7 linked regions of the Homo sapiens genome follow. Changing the gene in region 1 together with any one later gene gives a genetic interaction. Each region holds a gene or a part of one and is shown on either strand. Other genes may lie near its edges.

Region 1 (3,500 bases):
CCCCTCCCTCCTTCCCCAATAAATAGAGTGAACATCCTGCCCAGGGCCTCCCCCACCTTGTGGCATGGCGGGCTGGGGCAGGGCCTGGGGCGCTACATTCATGGCTGCCCAGGCGGGCGGTGGTGGGCAGGCCTTAGTGGGAGCCGTGGGCCCCGCACAGGGGCACTGTGCTGTCTTGGTTCTGCCCCTCCATGTCCATGTCCAGCAGTGTGGGCTGCACGCTGGGGGGCCCAGGGCTCTCCGGAGTGTCTGGCCTGCTGGGAGGCGAGATGGTGAGTGTCCGGCCGAAGGAGACCAGTTTCCAGGGGTCCAAGCGGGGGCGACTGGCAGCCGGCCGAGGTCTCGGGGCAAAGGTCAGGGTGGTGGGGCGGCCTGGGAACTCAGGGGGCCGGCGGCGGGCTGGGAACAGGGCCTGGGGGTCGGGCAGGCGGGGGAAGTCCAGAAGGTCACGAGGGCCTGGTAAGAGAGGTTCAGAGGAGGTGAGTGGGGTGGGGCAGAGGGTGGCATTAAAAAGCCCAGAGCTGTTACATGAAAAGCACAAGTTCTGGTTTCTCTCGAGAAATCCGTGGATCTTGCTGCATCCAGTTTCCATCTGTAGTGTGGCAGTGCTGGGACCTTGACCTAGACTGGGACCACTCCCAGCTGCTTGCTCCTCTGGGTGGACCCTGGCATGTTCCTCAACCTTCTGGAACTGCTGCTTAGCGGCAGCCTCGGGGGCCAAAGCCCTGGTCTTCCCGACTCTCCTGCACTGGGCTAAGCTCAGGCATGGCTTAGCTCTGAAGGGGGATAAAAATGGTGCCTCACCACGCAGGTGAGGAGCAAATAGAATAACCATAACTTAAAACAAGCAGCACAGTGCCTGACGTGGGTACTTAATAACACTGCTATGGCCGCATCTCCCACCCAGTTAACAGATGGAGGAGAACAGTGTCTAGGCTGTGTAAGAATTGGCGATGGTCATGCTGGTCACAACCGCTATAGGCACCTGCCTGGCCTTATAGGCATCAGTTTGCCGCCTGTGTCTCAGTCCCCTGGAGACCCCCGATGCCTCCAGGAGTGAGCGGTAAAGGGACACAGACCCTCCCTCCTCCACAAGAAGCAGGAGGTGGCTGCCTGAGGGGTCGTGGCTGGGCTGGACTTGCGACCCTGGCAGAGGAGGAAAGAAGGGGTTTTCTGTGACCTGGGTGCAGGGCGCCTCACTCACCAGGGCCATGGCCCGCGGGCTCGGGCGGCCCCCGCTGCCCCAGCGCCCCGTCCGATGGCGTCCGCCGGTGCCCGCGGCTCACAGCGCATGCAGCCGTGACGTGGGTGGGCGTGAGCGACTGGCGGGGGTCCTTCTTGAAGCTCTCCAGCTCCAGGTCCACCAGGGGGTTGGTGCTGGGCGAGGGCGTGGGTGTGGGCGCGGGCGGGGAGGGTGGTGGGGAGGGCGCGGCCGGTGCGGCCTCGTCACTGTCAGAGCGCAGCAGTGAACGCGTGGAGTTGCAGTCGGACACGGACGACAGCGACACGAGGGTGGCCGAGGGCGCCAGGCCCAGGCCGGGGCCCACGTCTTCGCGGCGGCCGTGGGGACGCGCGGGTGGGCTGAGGCCCCGCGGGAAGCGGCCGGCGCGGGGAAAGAAGAGGCCGTCGAGCCAGCGCCGCTGCTCCTCACCGTCGGCCGCGCGCGCCTCGGCCACGTCGGCGCCCAGGCCCACAGCCCCCAGCAGCGTGGCGCAGCCTAGCAGCGCCAGGTCGCAGCGCCGCCGGGCGCCGTGTCCCCACCGAGCGGGGGGCGCGGACGGCGTCGGCTCCCACGGCGCCCGCGCCCCCGGGGAGGGCTCGGCAGGCAGTGGCACTGAGAGGTAGGACGGGGTCGAGTAGGGGGAAGGGGGCACGCTGCTGCCTCCATCCTCTGCCTCCGCGAACTCCTCTGCAACCGGAGAGGGCCATCACTCCGCTGCAGGGCTGGCCAGGGCCCCACGGGGACTTGTGCCAAGGGACAGCCCCCGATGACCCCTCCAACAGCAAGACCAAGACCCACGAGCATCGTTCTTGAATCTGTCTCCAGGAGAAGCCTCAGAGAAGGGTGGTCCCTGCCCCTGGAAATGACCCCCCACGCCCCAGGGGCCACCATCTCCCTTCCCAGGAAGGCCTTCCACTCACTGGCCCAGTGAAACCTGGTCTCTTCGCTCAGCCCCAGGAGGCTCACCCCTTTGGCCAGGGAACCCCCACCCCCTTACAAGAACCCAGGCTCTTACCCATCTCATTGAGGCTGGCAAAGCCAGGGGCGATGGGTGTGTGTTTGGGGGACTTGCCCAGGTTGGGGGCACTTGATGACCACTGTTTGCTTCCTTCCCCCAGCCCCTTCAGCCTGCGGGGTCCAGGGAGAGATGGAGACCTCAGTCCTGTGGCCTGGAGCCTGGGAGCTGGGGCTTGGGCACAGGGTGGGCATGACCACACCACACCTCACCTCTCCTCTCCTCCCACCCGCTCCTTCTGCAGGGTGGAGCTGGGCCCCCACGTTCGTCCCTTCTTCTTGCCCCCGACCAGTTCTTCCTTCTTTGGGGGCCCACCGCGGCTCCATGTCCCACTTCCTCCACTGCTGCTGCCACTGCTGCTGCCACCACAGTCCACGGGAGTCACTGGGTCCAGAGAAGCCACTTGGTTACTGGGTGGAGGATCTGTCCCCACTGGGCTCCCAGCCTCCAGTGCCCCCAGCTCAGGCCCACCCTCCGCCTGGGAGTCCAAGGGCTCTTTTGAACTCCAGTCATGACCCTCCCTGCTATATATCTCCCCATAGCCCCCTACTGCTGTCAGGACAAGGTTCCAGCTCCTCCGCCTGGCACTGAAGGCCATGAGCGGTTCCCTGCCAACTCCTCCAGCCTCCCCTCCTCTTCACAGCCTAACCCTTCACCATTCATTCTGGCGGGCTGCCTGCGCTTCTGGTCTCCAGCTCTGGGTAGTTAGTTCCCTGGGGGTCAGCTGCCTTCATCTCTGTACCTGCAATGCTCTGGACCTATCTGGTGCCAGTGTTTGCTGCCATGGTATGGGTATTTGTCTCTGTGTCCCCTGCAGGACTGACCTCCTGGGCCTGGTACAAAGCAGGTGCCCAGACAGAGGGCAGGGGGGCTGTGGGTGGGGACAGTGCTGGGGTGAATGAGGTGTTGGAACTTGGGAGCTAGCCTTTCACCCTTCAACCCACCAGGAAACTCCGATGACCGTGTCTCTGCCATATAGCCCCGACTGTGGACATCTGTCCCTTCCAAGTCCCCCACCCTGGCCTGGCCTCCATCATCTCACTGCTTTCTCCACCTTTATTTCTTACAGCAGCCAGAGGGAAAAAGGTCAATTTGATTCCCTCAGTGCCTTGCTCGCATGGCTCTGGGGGCTGCCCCAGGGCAGTTAAAAGAAAATCCATACCAGGCCAGGTGCGGTGGCTCTTGCCTGGAATCCCAGCACTTTGGGAGGCCCAGGCAGAAGAATCACTTGAGGTCAGGAGTTGGAGACCAGCCTGGCCAACA
Region 2 (3,500 bases), on another chromosome or scaffold:
TTGGGCCCCCCATGGTTGCCCGACTGGTTCGCTTCTACCCCCGGGCTGACCGGGTCATGAGCGTCTGTCTGCGGGTAGAGCTCTATGGCTGCCTCTGGAGGGGTGAGTGGCTCAGCTTCCTGGGAATCTGTTTCCTGAGCAGGGGACTGGAGGGTGGGGAGTGTGGAGAATGGGCATCCAGGATCCCTTCTCCTGCTGGGAAGCTGTCACTCTGAGGAGGGGGCTAGCCAGCATTGTCTCCTCCATGCCAATGAGCCAGTGGAGAGATACAAGAAGGGACCTGAAACCTGCCCAGGCCTGATGCAGGGATGGGGGATGGAGCCTTAGTGCCTCTGACCCCCATCCTCTCACCCTGCCCCAGATGGACTCCTGTCTTACACCGCCCCTGTGGGGCAGACAATGTATTTATCTGAGGCCGTGTACCTCAACGACTCCACCTATGACGGACATACCGTGGGCGGGTAAGAAAGGCCCCTGCAGGATATGGAGTTTGGGGTGGGAGGGAGGACTGTGTGTGTGTGTGTGTGTGTGTGTGTGTGAGAGTGTGTGTGTGTAGGGGGGCTGGTAAGTAGGGTGGGGAGTGAGATGGAAGAGCTGAGAAGAGGGATGGGTTAGGTGGGGCCTCAAAGGGTAGCACTAGGGTGACCACTAGCCCGTATGACACTGTATGAAAAAGGCACCCCTTTGCTAACACACATTGTTGGAAATTGCTGCAATAAATATACACATCATAGATTGAAATGGTGCCCCTTAGAGGTGGTGCCTTTGTGCTGGATGTGACCTGCAAGGTACCTGTAGTGCTGGGGTGGGGTGGAGAGAGGAGAAGGGCCAGCTGCATGAGTGTGAGGTGGGATGGGAATGGGACTAGTGGATGGGAGCCAGGCTGGCCATGCCACTGTGCCGGAGGGTGGCGGAGCAGAATGCCTGGATGTCAAGACCCTCTTCCCTTCCAACCTCCTCTTCCTTGGTCCCCTCTTCTCCAGACTGCAGTATGGGGGTCTGGGCCAGCTGGCAGATGGTGTGGTGGGGCTGGATGACTTTAGGAAGAGTCAGGAGCTGCGGGTCTGGCCAGGCTATGACTATGTGGGATGGAGCAACCACAGCTTCTCCAGTGGCTATGTGGAGATGGAGTTTGAGTTTGACCGGCTGAGGGCCTTCCAGGCTATGCAGGTGAGTGAGTCCGGCTCTCGAGGAGGGCTCTGAAGCCATGCAGGGTGCCGTTGGGGTGCCCCCACCACTCCTAGCCTTGACCCTGTGCCCTCTTCCCTTCCCCCCAGGTCCACTGTAACAACATGCACACGCTGGGAGCCCGTCTGCCTGGCGGGGTGGAATGTCGCTTCCGGCGTGGCCCTGCCATGGCCTGGGAGGGGGAGCCCATGCGCCACAACCTAGGGGGCAACCTGGGGGACCCCAGAGCCCGGGCTGTCTCAGTGCCCCTTGGCGGCCGTGTGGCTCGCTTTCTGCAGTGCCGCTTCCTCTTTGCGGGGCCCTGGTTACTCTTCAGCGAAATCTCCTTCATCTCTGGTAAGCCCTGGAGTAGCCCAGTCTCCAGTCCCTGAAATTGACAACTGATTTCATTCCTAACCCTGCAGTGTCCCTAAAATACTCATTCCTTGCATTATATCTACCCATCACCCACCGAAACTTCTCAATTAGGGGTGCCCCAAATAACTTGAGCCCCTTTCTGCCTCTTGTTCTCTGCGTATCCATCTTTCCTTTGTAAGCCCCTTGCCCGTGACTATTATTGAGCCAGTATGACAGTACTGGTTGTTAAAATATTGAAATACTTCTGTATTAGTTGAGAAATAGCCTCTTCTCTAAGCCTCCAGATACCTGTCCTCCACCTCCCCACAATCCAGCAACTATAGGGTTAACACCCACCACAGCTGGGTGTTCCAGGACCCTGCTCCCCCAGCCCCCACTGGTCAGTGGTTGCCTATTGAGAATCACCCATGCTTCTGCTCCTTTGCACAACAGTCCACTGCCTCTGCCTCCCTTGGGTCTCCTCCTCATTTACCTCCCTCCTTTCTTTTTGTTCCTTCTCCCCAGATGTGGTGAACAATTCCTCTCCGGCACTGGGAGGCACCTTCCCGCCAGCCCCCTGGTGGCCGCCTGGCCCACCTCCCACCAACTTCAGCAGCTTGGGTGAGCAATCTTGGGTGGGCGTGTGGACCCTCTGCACCCTTCTCCCTGGGCCTCCCCCTCGGCTAGGGTGGGACCCTCCTGTGGTGCTGACCCTGCTGCCTCCACCAGAGCTGGAGCCCAGAGGCCAGCAGCCCGTGGCCAAGGCCGAGGGGAGCCCGACCGCCATCCTCATCGGCTGCCTGGTGGCCATCATCCTGCTCCTGCTGCTCATCATTGCCCTCATGCTCTGGCGGCTGCACTGGCGCAGGCTCCTCAGCAAGGTGGGCACAGCCGTGGCATGTGGAGTGGCGGGGGGAGGCCAGGCCCCAGCACGAGCCAGCGTCCAGTGGGACCTGCAGGGCACAGCCCACTAGCATCCCAAGAGGAGGGCTTAGTAAAGAGACCACTTACACCATGTCAAAGAGGGTATGGGGCTCACAGGGAGGGCTGCTCCCCAGCTCTGGGTCTGCTCAGCGGAGAGGAGCAAATACCACGACCCAGAGGAGAGAGCCTGTGGAGAGGGCACCTTGACAGGGGCAGTAGACTTTGGTCCTGGGATGCAGCTGGCCCGTATCTACCCCTCAGGGAGGGCCTGGGAGAATAGATGCCCTGACCTCACTTTCTGCCCCAAACTCCTGCTGGGCTCCTCTCTGGCTAACCCAAACCAGGCCTGTTGGTGCAGTGTACACTGGTCAGCCTTGGGGCAGAAGCAGGGTAGAGACAGGCAGAGAGTGGGGTTGGAGGGGCAAAGGGAAGACGTCTGGCACACCCCAAGCCACGTCTTCCGGCTGGAGTCCAGTGGCAGTAATGTACATTAAGGTTGATGACTGGACACGGTGGCTCATGCCTGTAATCCTAGCACTTTGGGAGGCCGAGGCGGGAGGATCACCTGAGGTCAAGAGTTCGAGACCAGCCTGACCAACATGGTGAAATCCCATCTCTACTAAGAATACAAAATTAGCCAGGCATGGTGGCTGATGCCTGTAATCCCAGCTACTCAGGAGGCTGAGGCATGAATCTCTTGAACCTGGGAGGCGAAGGTTGCAGTGAGCTGAGATCATGCCATTTCACTTCAGCCTGGGCGACAAGAGCAAAATTCCATCTCAAAAAAACAAACAAACAAAAAAAAAACGGTTGATAGTTATGGACTGGGCAGATGAGGGTTAGAATCTCATTGTGGGACAGGGAAGTTACCTCCATGCTCTTGAGCTTCACTTTCTCTGCCTGTAAGATGGTGCTGATAGTATCCACAGCTGTAGGGCTCTTGTGAGGGCTGAGGGAGGGAACGCAGGGATGGACACAGCAGAGGGCCAGGCCGTGTGTGCTGAGCAACACGGGTGATGCCTCCCATCCCTATGACAAGGCTGAACGGAGGG
Region 3 (4,139 bases), on another chromosome or scaffold:
ACCTTCTATGGTGTAGTGGAAGATGCTGGGCTGGACGTCCAGGGTCAGGCTCCCCCGGGCGTTCTGCAGCACCTTCTTCTTCAGGGCCTGGGAGAAGTCCCTGGCCACTGCATCCACCATCGGGAGGAACCTCTGCACGGCCTTGGGCGACAGCACATCTGGGTTCAGCCGCAATCGGTTGAAGCGCCATTCAGGCCCATTCCTACAGAGGCCAGGGCAGAGCTTGTGAGGCCGCCCCAGCAAGACACAGGCCCTGACCCGTATCCCATCCTCCTTGTCCCCAAGGGGAATCGGCCTGCAGGGAGCTGACTGGGGGCCCTGGTAGAAGCTGCCTGTTTGTGTTCGAGCTGCAGCCTTTTCTCAGAGCGGCCTCCAGGTGCTGGGCAAAGGCCACTCAGGTCTAAGCAGGGATGAGATGGTAGCTTCTGCCCACAGGTGCTGACAGGGTAACTGAGGTCATTCCCGGGACCTGGCGACCCAAGTCTGGCACCACCTCACCCATGCGGGCCCTCCCTGTAGTAACAGGGTAGGGCTTTTCTCCAAGAAAGGAGGTGACCCCTGTTGTCAAGCTTTGCCCACCTCACCCACACAGTGTCCTGAGGGGAGAGCCCCTGGCTGCCCTCTCCTCCCCACCCTTCCCCGCCCTGGGCACAGTGCCTCTGGGGCAGCAGCCTCTGCCTGTCTCTGTGAAGCATCTATATCTTCTGCAGGACAGAAACCAAGCTTTGTGCTTCATGCCATCCTCACCCACAGCCAGAGTGCGTGGGGGCTCCATGGATGCCCCCAGGGAATGGTGGGGAGGAATTTCCCCTGTCAGCCACATTCCTGCAAAACTCCTTTATTTATGTCCAGCTGGCTGCTGTGAGCTGTTGACAGTGATGACAGGCAGAAGATGCACATGCACACGTGCGCCCATGCAAGACCTCAACACCATGTGTGAAGAGACGCATGTGCATGTGTGCACAAACACTACACCCATGCCGGCACCTGCACATGCACACACACAGACACTTGTGCACACACACCACACATACATTCACACACAGACACGTGCACACACTACACATGTGCAAATGCAGGTACAGAGAAACACACAGCATGTGCACAGATGCAAGACACACACACATACAGGAGCGCTCCCCTTCCTTCCATTATGCGCACCCAGCCTCCTGGACCTGCCTTCCTGGGTCCTGACTCTCTCCCAGATGTCATCTATAGGCCAGCCTCAGTGAAGGCCCCGACCCACGGGTGCCCTTTTACCTAAACCCCACTATTCCCAATAGCGTTCCCTTCCTACCATGGAGTGGGGGCTGTCACCACTGTGACATCCTCATCCAGTCCTTCCCCCGTCCTAATGACAACATCCCTGCAGGTGACCGACTCCAAGCATCAGCCTCTCCCTGCCCACCTGACCAGGCGCCACCCTCTCCACGGGCCAGGAAACATCCTCCCCAGTGCCATCAACCGCCCCACCTTGTGCCTTGCTTCTGAGAACAACGGAACCACCAGCCACCTGCGTCCCCACCTGCCTCCTGCCCCGGACTGTCCCCATCAGGAAGGTTTGCCAGGACTGCAGGGACCCTGAGCGCCCTGAGGGAGGCTGTGGCCCCGGCGAACACCAGGCTCAGCACTCAGCCTGTGACCTGGGCCAGTGGAAGTCCCCTTCTCAGGGCCTCAGTTTTCTGACCTATGGGAAGGACAGTCCCCAGACCGCAAGAGAAAGCAGCCGCCGAGGTTGGTGCAGAGCGGGTTCTCACTACACAGAAGGGCTCATTGCTCTGCGTCTTCTCTGCAGAGGTGCCCGTGCCCATTTCTCCACCACCGCCCTGCTTCCCCAACCCACAGTGCAGACGCGACCCCACAGGATGGCCGTCCTCTGGGCCGGGTGCTCACCCTCACTGCCCACCACAGGGGCCCAGGGCAGATGTGCTTTTGGGTCCTACCTCTCTCGCCTCCCCCCTACACCCAGGCTGCCCACCCTGCTCCCAGCTCTCAGCTCCCAACTCGCCGCTTACAACAAGAACACGCCACATTTGTGCCCACGATGTTGTCTGTAGGCCACCCAGGGCTCCAGGATCATCCTGCAGGGATGCAGGCTGTCCACCTGTTGCAGCTTCTCCACATCCTCCGGCAGCATCACACACACCATGCGTGGTCCTCCCAAGTTGTACCTGTGGGGCCAAGCAGGAGGCCCTGCTGGACGGGGTCATGTCCCTCGTGGCCCCACCCTGCAGTCCCAATCCAAAGTGTCTCCTGTCCACCCTCCCTGCTCCTGGATTAGCGGCTTCACAGCTAAAGCCCTCCTGCTGGCTCCCTGGAACCTTTCAACTTTAGTGCTTCTGAGTCCTGCCCTCTCTGCAGTGAGCTGGGGTTTTCTCTGCACTATCCCCTGCCCTGGCAGCACCACAGACCAGCATGTGCTGCACTCCTTCCCCATCCTCCAAAGGATGCAGAGTGCCGGGACCTGCTGGGAATGGCAGTGCTGAGTGCCTGGCAGGGTCCTGGGCAGCAGGGGCAGGGATCTGGGTGTTCCCAGCGAGGGCCAGGGAGGGCTTTACCTGAAAATGGGCCCCAGCTCCTGGAAGGTCTGGTGCATCTCCAGGTGCAGGTGCTCATAACCCTGCTCCCTCCAGATCTGCAGCAGCCTCAGCCACCTGTTGCCTGGATGCTGGGGCATGGCTTCAAACGGCAGCACCGTCCTAGGGGCCCGAGCGGCTCTAGTGCCCAGTGCCCGTGCCCTTTGCAGGGACAGCCAGGGCGCTGCCACGCACACCTCTGCCTTTGCCCTGAGTGCCATTCCAATGCTCCCTCCACCCTGTTCAGCCCAAATCCTTTTATCTCACCCAGGAACCTGCTCTGGAAACATATCACGTCATGGGAGAACTGGCTCTGGACCTGCCTGAGACTCTCAGAGCGAAGGTCAAGGCTGGAGGCCCCCAGCCAAAGGTAGATGAAGGAGAAGTCAGGTGCCTAATTCCCCATTGCTGCAAGTCCTGCTGGTCTGAGGATGCTGAGAAAAGGCGTGGGGTCTGGACTGGGGGTCCATGCTGGTGGAAGGTGGTGGGACCTGGCCTCTCCTTTCTCCAGGGCTGAGAGGAGTAAAATGGATGGGGACTTTATCTTATCGTGAGATGAGAGGGAGCCTTGGATTCTTTTAATAGACTTTATTTTTATACCACAGATTTAGTTCATTGCAAAATTGATCAAAAACTGCAGAAAATGTCCACGTACCCCCTGCCCTGACACAGGTACACCCTCCACCACAGGAGCGCACTGGTTCCATGTGAGGAATCTCGATACGTTGTTATCAACCAGGGTCCTGGAGTCACATGGGGTCTCCTCCTGGTGGTCAACATGCTGTGGGTTTTGACAAATGTATGTAATTTGTATCCCTCCTTGCAGGATCCTAGGAGTATTTTCACTGTCTTAAAAAGAGGAAAAGAAAACCTGTGCTCTGCCTGCTCATCCCTCCTGCCCCAGTCCCTGACATCTCCGATCTTTTTATCATCACCATGCTTTGGCCTTTTCCAAAATGTTGTATAGTTGGAATGACACCGTTTGTAGCCTTTTCAAAGTGACGTATCTCAGTTAGTAATATGCGTTTAAGGTTCCTCCATTTCTTTTCGTGGCTTGATAGCTAATTTCCTTTTTTTTTTTTTTTTCTAGAGGCTGGGTCTCACTTCTTTAGTGGTTGCCCTAGAGTTTGCAATATACGCTTAAAACTCATCTCTCCAACTCCACCTTCATATAACACTATACAGCTTCAGAGGTAATGCAAGCACTTTATAATCATCAGATATTCTTAGGCTGGGCATAGTGGCTCATGTCTGTCATCCCAGCACTTTGGGAGGCTGATGCAGGTGGATCACCTGAGGTCAGGAGTTCGAGACCAGCCTGGCCAACATGGCAAAACCCTGTCTCTACTAAAAATACAAAATTAGCCAGGTGTGGTGGCGCATGCCTGTAATCTCGGCTTCTCAGCAGGCTGAGTCAAGATGAATGCTTGAATCAAGGAGGCGGAGGTTGCAGTGAGTTGAGATCATCCCACTGCACTCCAACCTGGGCAGCAAAGCAAGACTCCATCTCAAAATAAATAAATAATAAGATATTTTTAATTCCACTCACCCATCCCTTGCATC
Region 4 (3,500 bases), 8.4 Mb from region 1:
ACCAGGCCGTCGTCGAAGCGCGCATGCGGAGCTGCCACCAGGTCAGCGCCTAGGTGGCTGGGCGAGATGGCCAACATGAGCACAAAGTCCCCCTCCAGCGTCACCCAGTCTGGGGGCAGCGGGGTGCCCAGCGGAGGCAGCAGGTGGTCGGGCGGGCCGCAGGTGGAGGCCCCTACCCGGGCATCAGGGGTGGGAAGTGGGAGCCCAGAGGATGGGGGAATTACGGGGGCCCCTTCGGAGACGGGTGAGTGTAGAGCTGCCTTGGGAGAGCCAGGAGGTGAAGACAGCAGTGGGTCCGGGGACAGCGGAGCATCCCCAGCCCCACCCCAGTCCCCAGCCAGCTCTGGGCCCCCACCGTTGAGGGACAGGATGGGCAGGGGTTCTGGCGAGCCAGGAGAGGCCAGGGCAGGCTGGGGCAGGGGAAGAGGCAGGTCAGACACAGAACGATGCAGGGGTGAGTGGGCCATGGGCGGGGCTGGGTCTGGGGTTAGGGTCAGCTCCGACTTGGCACGAGGCAGGCTATGGGCAGGGGTGGGCGAGGCAGGTTCCACAGTGGCGGGGAGGTAGGAGAGGCGTCCGCGGTAGGTGTGCAGTGTGGCGAGGCCCAGCACCGTGCCCAGTGTGAAGCGGGCACTGCCCAAGGCCCTGAAGCGCTCGCTCTGGATATCCACATCTGACACGAAGCCCCAGGCCACAGACAGGAAGGAGAAACAGCGGGAGCCCGAGGCCAGCGTCACGGAGAGCAGGTCCAGTGGGTGGCCACCACCCCGGCACAGCAACAGTGAGCAGTTGAGCAACAGGTCGAGGCCCAGGGCTGGCTCAAATCTTCACAGCCGGAGATGGACGGACACACAGAAGGAAGGAGCAAACAGGGGTTGGGGAAAGAGACAGGTAGGAAAGCAGCTGGCAATGAGACCACGAAGGCCATGGCCCAGGCCCACCACAGCCGTGGGGCCACCTCCAGGCGACTCCTTACGGGGCCAGGTTCCTGGTCATCTTTCATTTGCTCCCTACAATTCACTGAGTGCCTCCCATGCCAGGCAGAGTTCTGGGCGCTCGGGATACAGCTGGGAAGCAGGCAGGCAAAAATGTCCAGGAGCTGGGGGTGAGCATCCCACAGGCAGGCTGATTTACTTGACTGACTGTGGGTTTGGCTGAGTGGGAGATATAGGGGTCCCTATCACCCCAGGAGGGGCTCATCCCTCCCTTCGTGGTATCCTCAACCTACCCCCCGTGCTGGTTCACTGCTCCGGCCAGCGCGTTGCCCGAGCCGCAGGGGAGGATGCCCACAGGCATCTTCACAGCTTCCTCCCAGTCAGGGCGATCTAGGAGCCCGTTCAGCACCTGGAGGGTGGGAGACCAGAAGCCTGGGTCCTGGTGGCAGTCTCTATAGTCCCCCAGGGCCCAGGGCTAGGGGCAGGGTGCTCCTGCTCTACCTCATGGAGCAGCCCGTCTCCCGAGACCGTGACGATGCCATCCCACTCACTCAGGCTCAGCCCCTGGACCAGCTCCCGGGCGTGGTTCTGTCGTTCTGAAGTGGGATACCGGGCTGTTAGGCAGGCTGTCCCACCCCAGCCCCATAGACCCAGGAGTCCCACCCACCACTTTGCTCCCTTAGGACTCAGCTGTCCCAGCCCCCAGCTCCCATTCTCACTGGCCCTTACCTGTCTGGATGAGGTTGAAGGACAGCCCAGCTTCAGAGATCATGGGAAGCACGTGGTTCTTACACCACTGCCAGGCCAGGCCCCGACCCCCAAAGGGATTGACCAATAGAAGCAACCGGGGCGGCCGAGGTAGCAGGTCAGGGGTGATCTCTGTGGAGAGAGGTTAGGGTCTGCAGAGGCCAGTGACCCAGGCCCCCCACCTTGGAAACAGTCCCTTCATCAGCCCCCAACGGAATTGGTGGAGGGCTGGCCCCTGGGACCTGCTGGCTCTCATGTGGCCAGGCCTAGGTATGCAGCCCTGCCCCAACTCCTAGCTGCTGAGACAAAGGCAGGGCTTAGGTGTGAAACCAAATGCCCTTTGTCCCCATGTGTGGGAGGAGCTGTAGTTCAGAGCTGTGGTTCCCACTTTCCTCACCCCAAACACCTATTACCCAGGATTAGGTTACTTCCAGCCCTTAGGGGCCCCAGGCAGGATTAGATGCCACCTCTGAACTCCAGGGAAGCCCTAGACCTCTGTTGGCACCCATCACTCTGGGTGGTACCTGGTCCTGTCTCAGGCTGCTGCTCTCACCACCCTGGGTGACTCACCTGTGGTCAAGACCCATGCAAAGGGGAAGAGGATAGGAGACAGAAACATAAATCTAGCAAGAGAACAGCAGATGTAAATCACTTTTCTCTGCCTGCGTTTTTGTTTTGTTTTGCTTTTTGTGATGGAGTATCGGTCTTGTCGCCCAGGATGGAGTGCAATGGTGCAATCTCGGCTCACTGCAGCCTCTGCCTCCCGGGTTCAAGTGATTCTCCTGCCTCAGCCTCCCGAGTAGCTGGAATTACAGGCATCCGTCACCATGCCCGGCTAATTTTTGTATTTTTAATAGAGACAGGGTTTCGCCATGTTGGCCAGGCTGGTCTCGAACTCCCGACCTCAGGTGATCTGCCTGCCTTGGCTTCCCAAAGTGCTGGGATTATAGGCATGAGCCACTGCACGCGACCTCTGCCTGTGCTTTTTTTTTTTTTTTTTTTTTTTTTGGAGACAGAGTTTTGCTCTTGTTGCCCAAGCTGGAGTGCAATGGCACGATCTCAGCTCACTGCAACCTCTGCCTCCTGGGTTCAAGCGATTCTCCTGCCTCACCCTCCTGTAGCTGGGATTACAGGTGCGCAGCACCACACCCGGCTAATTTTTTGTATTTTTAGTAGACATGGGGTTTCACCATGTTAGCCAGGCTGGTCTCGAACTCCTGACCTCAGGTGATCCACCCGCCTCAGCCTCCCAAATTGCTAGGATTACAGACATGAGCCACCACATCCGGTCCTCTTGTCTTTTTGTTCCTTCTGTAGCCCATCCCTGTGTATCACTCCTAACGGATCCAGAGAGATACATCACCCAGACACACAGAAAAATAAAGACACAGCTGCCTATGGAGGAAATTCTGCAGAGACACCAAGGTGGCTCCAGGATAGAGCAGCTGCCCAGCACCTCACCCCCATCCCCGGGCAGTGGCAGTCCTCGGAGCAGACAGGTGAGGGCAGTGGCCCAGCGCTGGGCCTCGGCACGGTTCTCTTCGTAGGTGGCGGCCCCATCTGCCCGGAAGGTGCGAGTGGCTCTGCGCCGGGCCCCGCGCCGGCCCCGAGGGTAGGTGTAGATGCAGAAGTAGGCCGCTGAGTCTGAGGGGCTGCGGCTTCGCAGGGTGCAGCAGCCTGAGACCTCGGCCAACGGGACCAGGCCACCCCGGGGCCTGGCTTCAGGTTTGGGGCGCAGCCGCTGTATGTGCAGGGCCTGCGATGTAAGGGTGAGGGCAAAGCGTGGGCCTCGGGCTGGGTAGGAGCCAAACTCGCCAT
Region 5 (4,094 bases), about 22 Mb from region 1:
GCATGTGCCACCACGCCTCGCTAATATTTGTATTTTTCATACAGACAAGATCTCACTATGTTGCTCAGGGTAGTCTCGAATTCTGGGACTCAAATGATCCTCCCACTTCAGCCTCCCAAAGTGCTGGGATTACAGGCATAAGCCATCATGCCCGGCCTCTGACGCTGTTTCTTTCAACCCCCAGGATTTCAGATTCCACCAGCTTATGGAGAAGGGAACCAAGTTTGAGATGCGTGATTGCCCAGAAAGTTGGAGGCTGAGCTGAGACTTGAACCCAGAGACCAGAACCTCCAGAGGTCAAAGTCCTCCTGGGTCCCCCAGAGAAGGGCCCTGAGATGACAGCTCGTTGGTCCTCATGGAAGCGTGACCCCCCCAGTAGACTTTCTCCCACACCCAACCTTGGTTTCCTCATCTATATGATAGGGACAAGCCAGACTCTACCTCCCTGGTGGTCATGGTCTCCGCTTATTCGGGTTCATAACCTTAAAGGCCCCTCGCACCACCTCAGTGAGCCATTTATGCCTGGCACAGGGCCAACTCTCAGTGCATATCTGCAAAGGAACCAATGAATGAATGAATGAAGTGACAAATGAATAAAGGAATAAATGAATGAGGCACTTATCATGTACCAGGCTTTCGTTACCACGTCCCATTTATTCCTCTGAGGCAGGGTCTATTTTATCCTTGTTACAGATGGGGAAACTAAGGCCCAGGGAGGAGCAAAGTCTTCCCCAAGTATGTACCCACTCAGAACTTGAGCTCTGAATGTCTCCCACCCAGCTTAGCCCAAGAGCGGGGTTCAGTGATGCCCACCCCCTAAGGCTCTAGAGAAAGGGGGTAGGCCCACATGCCAGTTTGGGGGTGGTAAAGCCAGGTAAGTTTTCTTTATGGGTCCCCTGAAACCCTGAAAGTGAACCCCAGTCCTGCATGAAAGTGAGCTCCCCATAGCTCAAGGTATTCAAGCACAATACGGCTTTGAGTGCTGAAGCAGGCTGTGCAGGCTTGGATAGTGACATGCCCTCTCTGAGCCTCAATTTCCCCACCTGTCAACAGCAGACAGTGACAGCTGTGATCAGGGGATCACAGTGCATGGGGATGGGTGGGTGCATGGGGATGGAGGGGCATTTGGGAGCCCTCCCCGATACCACCCCCTGCAGCCACCCAGATAGCCTGTCCTGGCCTGTCTGTCCCAGTCCAGGGCTGAAAGGGTGCGGGTCCTGCCCGCCCCTAGGTCTGGAGGCGGAGTCGCGGTGACCCGGGAGCCCAATAAATCTGCAACCCACAATCACGAGCTGCTCCCGTAAGCCCCAAGGCGACCTCCAGCTGTCAGCGCTGAGCACAGCGCCCAGGGAGAGGGACAGACAGCCGGCTGCATGGGACAGCGGAACCCAGAGTGAGAGGGGAGGTGGCAGGACAGACAGACAGCAGGGGCGGACGCAGAGACAGACAGCGGGGACAGGGAGGCCGACACGGACATCGACAGCCCATAGATTCCTAACCCAGGGAGCCCCGGCCCCTCTCGCCGCTTCCCACCCCAGACGGAGCGGGGACAGGCTGCCGAGCATCCTCCCACCCGCCCTCCCCGTCCTGCCTCCTCGGCCCCTGCCAGCTTCCCCCGCTTGAGCACGCAGGGCGTCCGAGGACGCGCTGGGCCTCCGCACCCGCCCTCATGGAGGCCGTGGAGACCGGGGAACGGCCCACCTTCGGAGCCTGGGACTACGGGGTCTTTGCCCTCATGCTCCTGGTGTCCACTGGCATCGGGCTGTGGGTCGGGCTGGCTCGGGGCGGGCAGCGCAGCGCTGAGGACTTCTTCACCGGGGGCCGGCGCCTGGCGGCCCTGCCCGTGGGCCTGTCGCTGTCTGCCAGCTTCATGTCGGCCGTGCAGGTGCTGGGCGTGCCGTCGGAGGCCTATCGCTATGGCCTCAAGTTCCTCTGGATGTGCCTGGGCCAGCTTCTGAACTCGGTCCTCACCGCCCTGCTCTTCATGCCCGTCTTCTACCGCCTGGGCCTCACCAGCACCTACGAGGTACCGGACAGAGGCCCGGGGGTAGGACCTGCCCCACTGGCAGTGCTGGGACCCCGTGTGGGGGAGGCGCTGGGGCTTTGGGCCGCTGTACAGGAGGACGCGGATGGCACCTCGGTGCTTTAACGGAAGGGGCCCCTAGGCAGACACGTGGGGAGGGTTCTAGGAAGAGGCCCCAGGCGCCCGGCGAGGGGCAGGAAGGAGGAAGAGAGAGCCTGGCGTCCTGCTCCTTCGGTGGAAGCGCGCGCGGGGCGGGGCCCGGCTCGACCAGGTGTGTCCTCACGGGTGGACACACACCTGCCCCCCACCTGCCCGGGCGTGCAGACCCACGTGTGCGCGCTAGAGGGGACTGCTGACGGCTCCGGGGTTCGAAACCTGGCTTCACTGCTTTCTTGTATCTTGGGCAAGGGGCGTGCCTCTCTGTTTGGGTTTCCCAGCTGTCCAATGGGCGAATTACAGGACCTCCCTCCAGGGGAGAGGGTAAAGCGATTAAAATCGTGACCGGGGCCCGGTGCGGTGGCTCACGCCTGTAATCCCAGCACTTTGGGAGGCCAAAGCATGCAGATCACCTGAGGTCAGGAGTTCAAGACCAGCCTGGCCAACATGGCGAAACCCCGTCTCTACTAAAAATACAAAAATTAGCCGGATGTGGTGGTGGGCACCTGTAATCCCAGCTACTTGGGAGGCTAAGACAGGAGAATTGCTTGAACCCGGGAGGTTGCAGTGAGCCGATATCGCGTCACTGCACTCCAGCCTGGGCGACAGAGCGAGACTCTTGTCTCAAAGGAAAAAAAAATATTGTGGCAGGGCGCAGTGGCTCACGCCTGTAATCCCAGCACTTTGGGAGGCCGAGGTGGGTGGATCACGAGGTCAGGAGTTCAAGACCAGCCTGGCTAACATGGTGAAACCCCGTCTTTACTAAAAATACAAAAATTAGCCGGGCATGGTCGCGCGCGCCTGTAATCCCAGCTACTCAGGAGGCTGAGGCAGAAGAATTGCTTGAACCTGGGAGGCGGAGGTTGCAGTGAGCCGAGATCGTGCCAGTGCACCCTAGCCTGGGCGACAGAGCGAGACTCCGTCCCCCCTCCCCCCCAAAAAAATCGTGACAGGTATATCCTAGGCGGCCAACACCATTGGCCCGGGGCACTGTCTACACTGTGCGCTTGCGGGCCACGTCGGTGTCTGCTGAGCGGTGGCTGCTCCAGGAGCCCGCGCCCGTCAGGCGCAAGTGGGAGGGCGCGTGCACACGCATGGACCAGTCCTCCAGGTCCACGGGGTACGCACAGGCACGGGATGGCACCTGTGCACGGGTGTGTGCGTGCGGCGGGGCCCCCACGTGCAAGAATCTGGCGGGCGCGGTTGGCTTCCGGAGGGAGGGGCCCACCTAGAGAGCAGACCAGGGACCCGAGAGGCCTCGGCTCCTGGGTAAGGACTGTCCAGGTGACCTCGAGTCCCTCCTTGCAGTACCTGGAGATGCGCTTCAGCCGCGCAGTGCGGCTCTGCGGGACTTTGCAGTACATTGTAGCCACGGTGAGTGGCCTCGGCCCCGCCCTCCGCTCAGGGCCCCGAGAGCGTCAGCCTTCACTAGCCCGGCCCCCACCATTCAAGACCCCGCCCAGACCCCGCCCCCCATGCTCCCGTTCTGACCCCGCCCCCATCAGTCCCCTCCCACACCACAGCCGGCCTGACCCCGCCTGCACTCTGGAAGACCCGGCCTATCTGCCCCGCCCATATTCTGGGACCACCCTTCTGCCTCCTCTCCCCATCCCCAACTCGCCCAGACGCCCTCCCTGCTCACCCGCCCCACACTCTGTCTACAGATGCTGTACACCGGCATCGTAATCTACGCACCGGCCCTCATCCTGAACCAAGGTGTGACTCTGGGAGATTAGGGAAGCATGTCTGGGAAGAGAAAGGGAGGGAGAGGAGAACCCAAGACTAAGTTTGCGCCCCGCCCAGGGGCCTAACAGGGGGACCTCTTTTTGCATAGTGACCGGGCTGGACATCTGGGCGTCGCTCCTGTCCACCGGAATTATCTGCACCTTCTACACGGCTGTGGTGAGTGGCCCTG
Region 6 (3,500 bases), on another chromosome or scaffold:
TGGCCCAGCTATATGGGAGGCCAAGATGGGAGGATCGCTTGAGCCCAGGAGTTAAGGCTGCAGTGAGCCCTGATCACACCACTGCACTTCAGCCTGGATGACACAGCGAGATCCCGTCTCAAAGCAAACAACTAGGCAAAGCACAAGCAGTGGACAGAGGGGCCGGGAGAAGAGCTCGTGGGAAGCGTGGGGTAGGGGCTCATGATGGGCAGCCCTGGGGCTCCCGGCGACCATTCTCTGTCTTGACCCGGTTGCAGGGACCTGGCTGTCCTTTATAATCAACTGAGTTGCCCGAGTGGCTCTGTGTGACCCGAATGCTGGATGCATCGTGTGGGGAGAAGCCAGCCTCGGGGACCAGGGCTGCCCAGGAGGCCCCGTCCCACGGTGACTGGCTGTGCCTTGAGGGCTAGGACCTCACACTGTGGCAGGTGTCCTCAGCACACCTGGACCCCTTCTCTCCCAGTGACATCCACAACCAGAAACACAGCGATGCACACCAGTGATTTCCATGCACTTTAATGAGGTCCAGCACTCAGGAGGATTAGCGCCCACCACCAGCTATCTGGGCAGGGGAGGGCTGGAGGGCCCGGTGCAGGCGTCAGGCTTAGGACAGGGAAGGGGGCTCAGGATAGGGAAGGGTCCTCAGGACAGGGGAAGGGGCTCAGAAGAGAGCAGGGGGCTTAGGACAGGAAGGGGCACTCAGGACGGGGCAGGGAAGGTGTGGGGGGCAGTCGCCACCTGGGTAGGAAGCAGTGGTGTTTTGGACAGCAGGGGTTGGTCCTCCAGTGACCCAGGTGGCCAACCCAGGCCTGACTCACGGCTTTTTGGGGACATAGTGGTGGATCCAGTCCAAGTAGTAGGTGACACGGGTGTAGATGCCAGGCCGGTTGGGCTGGGCACAGCCCTCGCCCCAGCTGACCACGCCCGCCTGCAGCCAGGTGCCATTCACCTTGCACACCAGGGGCCCTCCGGAGTCGCCCTGGGAAGGTCAGAGGTCAGCGCTCGCCGAACAGGCCTGGGAGTGGGGGTTGGGGGGCGGGGGGCGGGGGACAGGCGGGGCCCACCTGGCATGAGTCCCTCCGGGTGTTCCCGGCACACAGCATGTCGTCACGGACGATGCGGACGTCGTCTCCCGTGTAGGCGCCAAGGTGGTATTTTGCGTCACAAATGTGGTTTTCCATTATGGGGACCTTCACCTGCTTCAGAGGAAATGGCGGTGGGAGGCGCTCTGCAGGTGGGGAAGAGGGTGCAGCCTCAGGAGGGGGCCGGGCAACCCCCACCTGGAGCCCAGAGGGAGCCCAGGGGCTGGGCTGTGGCTAAGACCCTGGCCCCACCTCCACTGTCCCCAGACCCACCATCATTGTCCACATCGCCCCAGCCAGTGACCCAGCACGGCATCCCCGGGGGGAAGGTCTCTGAGGCAGGGGGCAGGGTGACCGTGTGGACGTGGCTGGAGACGTTCACCGGCTCCTCCAGCTCCAGCAGGGCGATGTCCGCTCCGATCTGGGCGGTGTAGAACTGTGGGTGCACGATGATCCTGCTGACCGGCAGCAGCTGGTCCTGGTAGTAGAGGTGCTGCTCCCGCAGTTGCACCCTGAGGGCGGCCAGATCCTTGACGTCCCTGGGCAGCGGAGGATCCCACTCAGGGCCCTGGGCAGCCCCCAGGAGCACCCGGGAGCCAGGGCTCACATCCAGCCCTTCCCCACCCCTCCAGGCCCCGGGAGACTCACGGTCCCACGCAGTGCGCTGCGGTCAGCACCCACTGGGGGTGGATGAGGGAGCCCCCGCAGAAGTGCATCCAGTATGGGCCGTGGACTCTCAGGCTCACCTGCCAGGGCCACTTGCTCCTGGGGGCCTCCTGACCCCCGACGATGCCCACTCGCTGCAGGGCCTGGCCTGGGGCTGGGGCAGGTGCCAGGTCAGGACCAGGAAGCAGCCCCAGGCCTGGGCCCAGCCCTTCCCTGTGTGGGGGCCAGCCCGACCTCCCCAGAACCCACCCAGGCCCTGACCTGTGGAATGTGGTGAGGGGCAGGGTGGACCCCGGCTGGGACTCACCAGGGGCCGCGTAGGCGCGGCTCGCCAGGACGGGCAGCGCCAGCAGCAGCAGATTCAGCATCTGGGGAGCAAGGAGGAGCATCGTGGGCCTGGCCGGGCCTCACAGGGCAGGGCTGGGGGCTACAGATTGTGGGGTGAAGAATGGAGCTGGGACGGGGGGACCGGGGTGGGTCCAGGCCTGCGGGCCTGGGTCTTGGTGCTCTGAGTCTGAGGCTGGGCCACTCTGCTCCAGGTGACGCTGATGTCAGGGTCTCTGAGAGTGGGGACTTACCCTGGCCGCTCCCTGTTCCTTCTACCCAGTGGGCTCTCCCCTCCCCATTTATCCTTCCAGATCAGGAGGGGGCGGAGGAGGGGCGCTGGGTCCTCCCATCCAGACTCGGAGGAAGTGGATGACTCAGACCCAGGGCCCCCGTGTAACACGTGCCCCCGCCACCCCGATGCCCTCTGTGTGTGGGGCTGCCAGGCAGGCCCCGCTGAGGGCTGAGCACTGGAGACTGGCAGCTCCACCTGTCAGCTGGTGGATCCCAGCACTGGAACCCACCACCTTCCCGCTGGTGGGATCTGCTCCTGCCCCTGTCTCGGTGCCAGGAGGCCTTCAGGCATTGCTGCACCCAGGTGGCCTGGCTGCCCCAGGCTACAAGACCCGTCGCTCCTGAAACCTGTTTCCCCAAGAGGGACACGGGTGAGGAACTCATGTCCATGGGCCACGCTCCAAGAGACGGGAAGGTGCCCACGGGGTGGGGACATGACGGGTGACACCCCTCCTACGGACTCCGAATCCACGGGGGTGGGGCCAGCCCTCCTCGACTCACTTGGTTGGGGGCTCACGTGAGACCCCTTTGTCAGATGGGGAAACAGCCTTGAGAGGGGACAGCACCAAGTGTCCTCAGCCAGGAAGGGGCCCTGCTCCCCACCCGCCGTATGAGACCCAAGTCCTCCTACGAGTCCTCAATGTCCACCTCTGGGGCTGTCCGTGCAGGTCCCCTGGTCTGCAGGTGCCTCCTTATCATGGGATCTGAGCTTCATACGCAGAGGGAAGAGCAGAGAGGAGTGCAGGTGCAACCCCAGGAGGCCCAGCCCAGCTCCCCATGGACTCACCCCCAACTTCAGCCCCAGCTCCCCATGGACTAGTCCCAGCCCCAGCCCCAGCTCCCCATGGTCTCATCCCCGGCCCCAGCTCCCTGTGCTCTCCATCCCATTCAGCGCTGACACTGTCCCTGCAGGTCCGTCCACCCCACCTCCCGACTCCCCTGGGCCTGTTGGTCACTGGGGCCTCCAGCCCACCTCCTCCGCTTCTGAGCCCCAGGACCCCCTGCCTGCCCCCCGACCCCCAACACAGGGCCACTCCGGGGCTCCTCCTGCCCCCACCCTGCCTGGGACCAGCCTGGTTTGGGGCTGACTCTGCACTGCGGGGCCATATCCATCTGGACTCCTTCCGGGCTGCA
Region 7 (3,500 bases), about 25 Mb from region 1:
CCCCAAGTGTCCTCGACCACAGCTGAGCCACACACATGATGACTTCTCCATATGATCCCAGGTTAAACAGAAAAGATATAACCAGGTATAATATTGAAACTATAGGCGGCTATTTATGGGACCCCTGGGGGTAAGGTGAGCTTTCGGACAAGAACTGAGCTGCTAGGACCCATGGTTGACAGATAAGAGAACGGCTGCCTTAAAAGAAAAAGTGATGCAGAGAAATGGTGAAATTAAGAAAAGGAGACAGATCCCTGATAATGTTCATTGACACCTGGATTCAGCCATGCCTGAAGACCACCCTCCCTGAAATTTACACTCCTTTGACTCTCTTTATTTGCTTAGAGCACACGAAGTTGAGTTTCCATCACTCACAACTGAAAGAGACCTCAGCAGCCAGAGAGCTGGTGACCTGCACAGAGTCACTAAGGATTTGGGGGTCAGAGCCATAGATTTTGTGGGATGCTGCCACTTCCCTAGCTCAGCCTGGTGTGTCCAAGGATGAGAAGAGCAGAGAGCAAGGGGAGGTCAAGCAGCTGGTGTGGGTTCTCCTATTGGAGAATCCTGAAGCCCATAGGAGGAGAGCAGGAAACTTAGGGTGGATGAGTGATAGGATGAGGTAGAAGGAACTGACCCATCATAGGTGGATGTCACATAAATAGCAGCCCAGATTCTCCACCAGCCACAAATCCTCCTACCGCTTTGGACTGAGGGATGGGCAAGGCTGGTGCAAGGACTGGCTGGGACCCCAAATACCAATGATGCCCACTGCATCATCCTGCCCCACACTTAAAAAATCCTACTTATTGGTCTAGACATAGCTCCAACAACTCTTCCTCCAGGAAACATTCCAGCCTGCCCCAGCAGACACCCAGTTCTCTGTGTTGTCATACCCATCTCTCTCTTGCCCATTCCTGACCCTATGAGGCTGGAAATGTCTCTGTCTAGACCCGTGTCCTTAAGCATGGGGGTTCCTTCCAGAAAGGGCCCTGAATTGAGGCCTCTTGGAGCCCCAGTGGTGCCCAGAACACCAAGACAGGGAGCAGATGGCAATGGAGGGAGAAGACATTGAGAAGGAAGTCTCAATGAGGGGCACGAGTACTCAAGGAGGGACGTGGGTACTGCAGAGACCACACAGAAGCTTGGTCTGGCACCCACCACCACAAGCTCTGCATGGGTACCTGAGGCATTGGTGATAGACCGGATGGTGTCAGGGTGGCATAAAACGATGAAGGGGATGATGGGACCCAGCCATACCGTAAAGCCCTGGGAATAGGTGGCCGACATCTGGGTCGAGTTCTTCAAGCCCTCCTCTGTAGGAGTGATCTGAAAGCAAGTCAAGGGCTGTCACTTCCTGTGATGGTTAATTTTAGGTGTCCACTAGACTGGGCTAAGGGATGCCCAGATAGCCAGTCAAACATTATTGCTGTGTGTGTCTGTGAGGGTGTTTGAGAAGAGATTAGCATTTGAAGGTAAACAGGATGGAAATAGTAGTGCAGAGGAATGAGTGAGTGAGGAAAGGAATGAGTGAGTGAGGAGAGGAATGAGTGAGTGTGGAGAGGAAGGAGTGAGTGAGGAGAGGAATGAGTGAGTGAGGAGAGGAATGAGTGAGTGAGGAGAGGAATGAGTGAGTGAGGAGAGGAATGAGTGAGTAAGGAGAGGAATGAGTGCATGGGTAGAGGAATGAGTGAGTGAGGAGAGGAATGAGTGAGTGAGGAGAGGAATGAGTGAGGAGAAGAATAAGAGTGAGCAGAGGAATGAGTGAGTGAGCGAGCAGAAGAATGAGTGAGTGAGGAGAGGAAGGAATGAGTGAGGAGAAGAATGAGTGCATGGGTAGAGGAATGAGTGAGTGAGGAGAGGAATGAGTGTGTGGGTAGAGGAATAAGTGAGGGAGGAGAGGAATGAGTGAGTGAGGAGAGGAATGAGTGAGTGAGGAGAGGAATGAGTAAGTGAGGAGAGGAATGAGTGAGTGAGGAGAGGAACGAGTGAGTGAGGAGAGGAATGAGCGAGTGAGGAGAGGAACGAGTGAGTGAGGAGAGGAATGAGCGAGTGAGGAGAGGAATGAGTGAGTGGGTAAAGGAATGGGAGGAGGGGAATGAGTGAGGAGAGGAATGAGTGAGTGGGTAGAGGAATGAGTGAGTGGGTAAAGGAATGAATGAGTGAGGAGAGAAATGAGTGAGTGAGGAGGGGAATGAGAGAGTGAGCAGAGGAATGAGTGAGTGAGGACAGGAATGAGTGAGTGAGGAATGAGTTGAGTGAGGAGAGGAATGACTAAGTGAGCAGAGGAATGAGTTGAGTGAGGAGAGGAATGACTAAGTGAGCAGAGGAATGAGTGAGTGAGGAGAGGAATGAGTGAATGGGTAGAGGAATGAGTAAGTGAGGAGAGGAATGAGTGAGTTGGTATTGGAATTAGTGAGGAGAGGAATGAGTGTGGGTAGAGGAATGAGTGAGTGAGGATATGAATGAGTGAGTGAGCAGAGGAATGAGTGAGTGAGGAGAGGAATGAGTGAGTGAGGACAGGAATGACTGAATGAGGGGAGGAATGAGTGAGTGAGGAGAGGAATGAGTGAGTTGGTATTGGAATGAGTGAGTGAGGAGAGGAATGAGTGAATGGGCACAGGAATGAGTGAGTGAGGAGAGGAATGAGTGAGTGGGGAGAGGAATGAGTAAGTGAGGAGAGGAATGAGTGAGTGAGGAGAGGAATGAGTGAGTGGGTAAAGGAATGGGAGGAAGGGAATGAGTGAGGAGAGGAATGAGTGAGTGGGTAGAGGAATGAGTGAGTGGGTAAAGGAATGAATGAGTGAGGAGAGAAATGAGTGAGTGAGGAGGGGAATGAGTGAGTGAGGAGAGGAATGAGTGAGTGAGGAATGAGTTGAGTGAGGAGAGGAATGACTAAGTGAGCAGAGGAATGAGTGAGTGAGGAGAGGAATGAGTGAATGGATAGAGGAATGAGTAAGTGAGGAGAGGAATGAGTGAGTTGGTATTGGAATTAGTGAGGAGAGGAATGAGTGTGGGTAGAGGAATGAGTGAGTGAGGATATGAATGAGTGAGTGGGCAGAGGAATGAGTGGGTGAGGAGAGGAATGAATGAGTGAGAAAAGGAATGAGTGAGTGAGGACAGGAATGACTGAATGAGGAGAGGAATGAGTGAGTGAGGAGAGGAATGAGTGAATGGGCACAGGAATGAGTGAGTGAGGAGAGGAATGAGTGAGTGAGGAGAGGAATGAGTGAGTTGGTATTAGAATGAGTGAGTGAGGAGAGGAATGAGTGAATGGGCACAGGAATGAGTAAGTGAGGAGAGGAATGAGTGAGCCGTCTCCCTTGGTTCTCTGGGTTCCCAGACCCCAGCCACCATCAATACACAGCTCCCTGAACCCCTACTGGAAGTCCCACCCCTCTGGAAGTCCACCCACCCTGAGACGCCAGACCCCATCCAATCCATTGAGGGCATGAACAGGACAAAAGGCAGAGGAAAGGAAGAACTTGCTCTCTCTTCTGCTG

What was found.
Region 2: changes in MAP3K10 (region 1) and DDR1 together harm fitness more than expected from each alone (negative genetic interaction), as found in Homo sapiens cells (one large-scale study listed by BioGRID).
Region 3: changes in MAP3K10 (region 1) and CYP11B2 together harm fitness more than expected from each alone (negative genetic interaction), as found in Homo sapiens cells (one large-scale study listed by BioGRID).
Region 4: changes in MAP3K10 (region 1) and SPHK2 together harm fitness more than expected from each alone (negative genetic interaction), as found in Homo sapiens cells (one large-scale study listed by BioGRID).
Region 5: changes in MAP3K10 (region 1) and SLC5A5 together harm fitness more than expected from each alone (negative genetic interaction), as found in Homo sapiens cells (one large-scale study listed by BioGRID).
Region 6: changes in MAP3K10 (region 1) and TPSAB1 together harm fitness more than expected from each alone (negative genetic interaction), as found in Homo sapiens cells (one large-scale study listed by BioGRID).
Region 7: changes in MAP3K10 (region 1) and CYP4F12 together harm fitness more than expected from each alone (negative genetic interaction), as found in Homo sapiens cells (one large-scale study listed by BioGRID).

The regions. Positions count from the first base shown.
Region 1 is NC_000019.10:40,211,926-40,215,425, reverse strand, and holds part of MAP3K10 (mitogen-activated protein kinase kinase kinase 10), read right to left. Parts: intron 2,622-3,500; coding exon 2,450-2,621; intron 2,351-2,449; coding exon 2,238-2,350; intron 2,038-2,237; coding exon of another isoform or gene 1,910-2,037; coding exon 1,205-1,909; intron 777-1,204; coding exon of another isoform or gene 760-776; exon of another isoform or gene 525-759; intron 457-524; coding exon 134-456; 3' UTR 1-133. UniProt on the Homo sapiens protein: Activates the JUN N-terminal pathway.
Region 2 is NC_000006.12:30,891,019-30,894,518, forward strand, and holds part of DDR1 (epithelial discoidin domain-containing receptor 1 isoform 2 precursor), read left to right. Parts: coding exon 1-102; intron 103-361; coding exon 362-461; intron 462-983; coding exon 984-1,170; intron 1,171-1,277; coding exon 1,278-1,524; intron 1,525-2,049; coding exon 2,050-2,145; intron 2,146-2,253; coding exon 2,254-2,405; intron 2,406-3,487; coding exon 3,488-3,500. UniProt on the Homo sapiens protein: Tyrosine kinase that functions as a cell surface receptor for fibrillar collagen and regulates cell attachment to the extracellular matrix, remodeling of the extracellular matrix, cell migration, differentiation, survival and cell proliferation.
Region 3 is NC_000008.11:142,915,044-142,919,182, forward strand, and holds the start of CYP11B2 (cytochrome P450 11B2, mitochondrial precursor), read right to left. Parts: upstream 2,801-4,139; 5' UTR 2,798-2,800; coding exon 2,559-2,797; intron 2,172-2,558; coding exon 2,016-2,171; intron 203-2,015; coding exon 3-202; intron 1-2. UniProt on the Homo sapiens protein: A cytochrome P450 monooxygenase that catalyzes the biosynthesis of aldosterone, the main mineralocorticoid in the human body responsible for salt and water homeostasis, thus involved in blood pressure regulation, arterial hypertension, and the development of heart failure.
Region 4 is NC_000019.10:48,626,006-48,629,505, reverse strand, and holds part of SPHK2 (sphingosine kinase 2), read right to left. Parts: coding exon 3,144-3,500; intron 1,815-3,143; coding exon 1,665-1,814; intron 1,532-1,664; coding exon 1,437-1,531; intron 1,345-1,436; coding exon 1,229-1,344; intron 826-1,228; coding exon 1-825. UniProt on the Homo sapiens protein: Catalyzes the phosphorylation of sphingosine to form sphingosine-1-phosphate (SPP), a lipid mediator with both intra- and extracellular functions. Also acts on D-erythro-dihydrosphingosine, D-erythro-sphingosine and L-threo-dihydrosphingosine.
Region 5 is NC_000019.10:17,870,651-17,874,744, forward strand, and holds the start of SLC5A5 (sodium/iodide cotransporter), read left to right. Parts: upstream 1-1,294; 5' UTR 1,295-1,669; coding exon 1,670-2,026; intron 2,027-3,107; exon of another isoform or gene 3,108-3,299; intron 3,300-3,487; coding exon 3,488-3,553; intron 3,554-3,843; coding exon 3,844-3,895; intron 3,896-4,013; coding exon 4,014-4,081; intron 4,082-4,094. UniProt on the Homo sapiens protein: Sodium:iodide symporter that mediates the transport of iodide into the thyroid gland. Can also mediate the transport of chlorate, thiocynate, nitrate and selenocynate.
Region 6 is NC_000016.10:1,239,555-1,243,054, reverse strand, and holds TPSAB1 (tryptase alpha/beta-1 precursor), read right to left. Parts: upstream 2,351-3,500; 5' UTR 2,327-2,350; intron 2,117-2,326; coding exon 2,056-2,116; intron 1,903-2,055; coding exon 1,731-1,902; intron 1,622-1,730; coding exon 1,356-1,621; intron 1,229-1,355; coding exon 1,065-1,228; intron 980-1,064; coding exon 815-979; 3' UTR 501-814; downstream 1-500. UniProt on the Homo sapiens protein: Tryptase is the major neutral protease present in mast cells and is secreted upon the coupled activation-degranulation response of this cell type. May play a role in innate immunity.
Region 7 is NC_000019.10:15,676,087-15,679,586, reverse strand, and holds part of CYP4F12 (cytochrome P450 4F12), read right to left. Parts: intron 1,327-3,500; coding exon 1,182-1,326; intron 1-1,181. UniProt on the Homo sapiens protein: A cytochrome P450 monooxygenase involved in the metabolism of endogenous polyunsaturated fatty acids (PUFAs).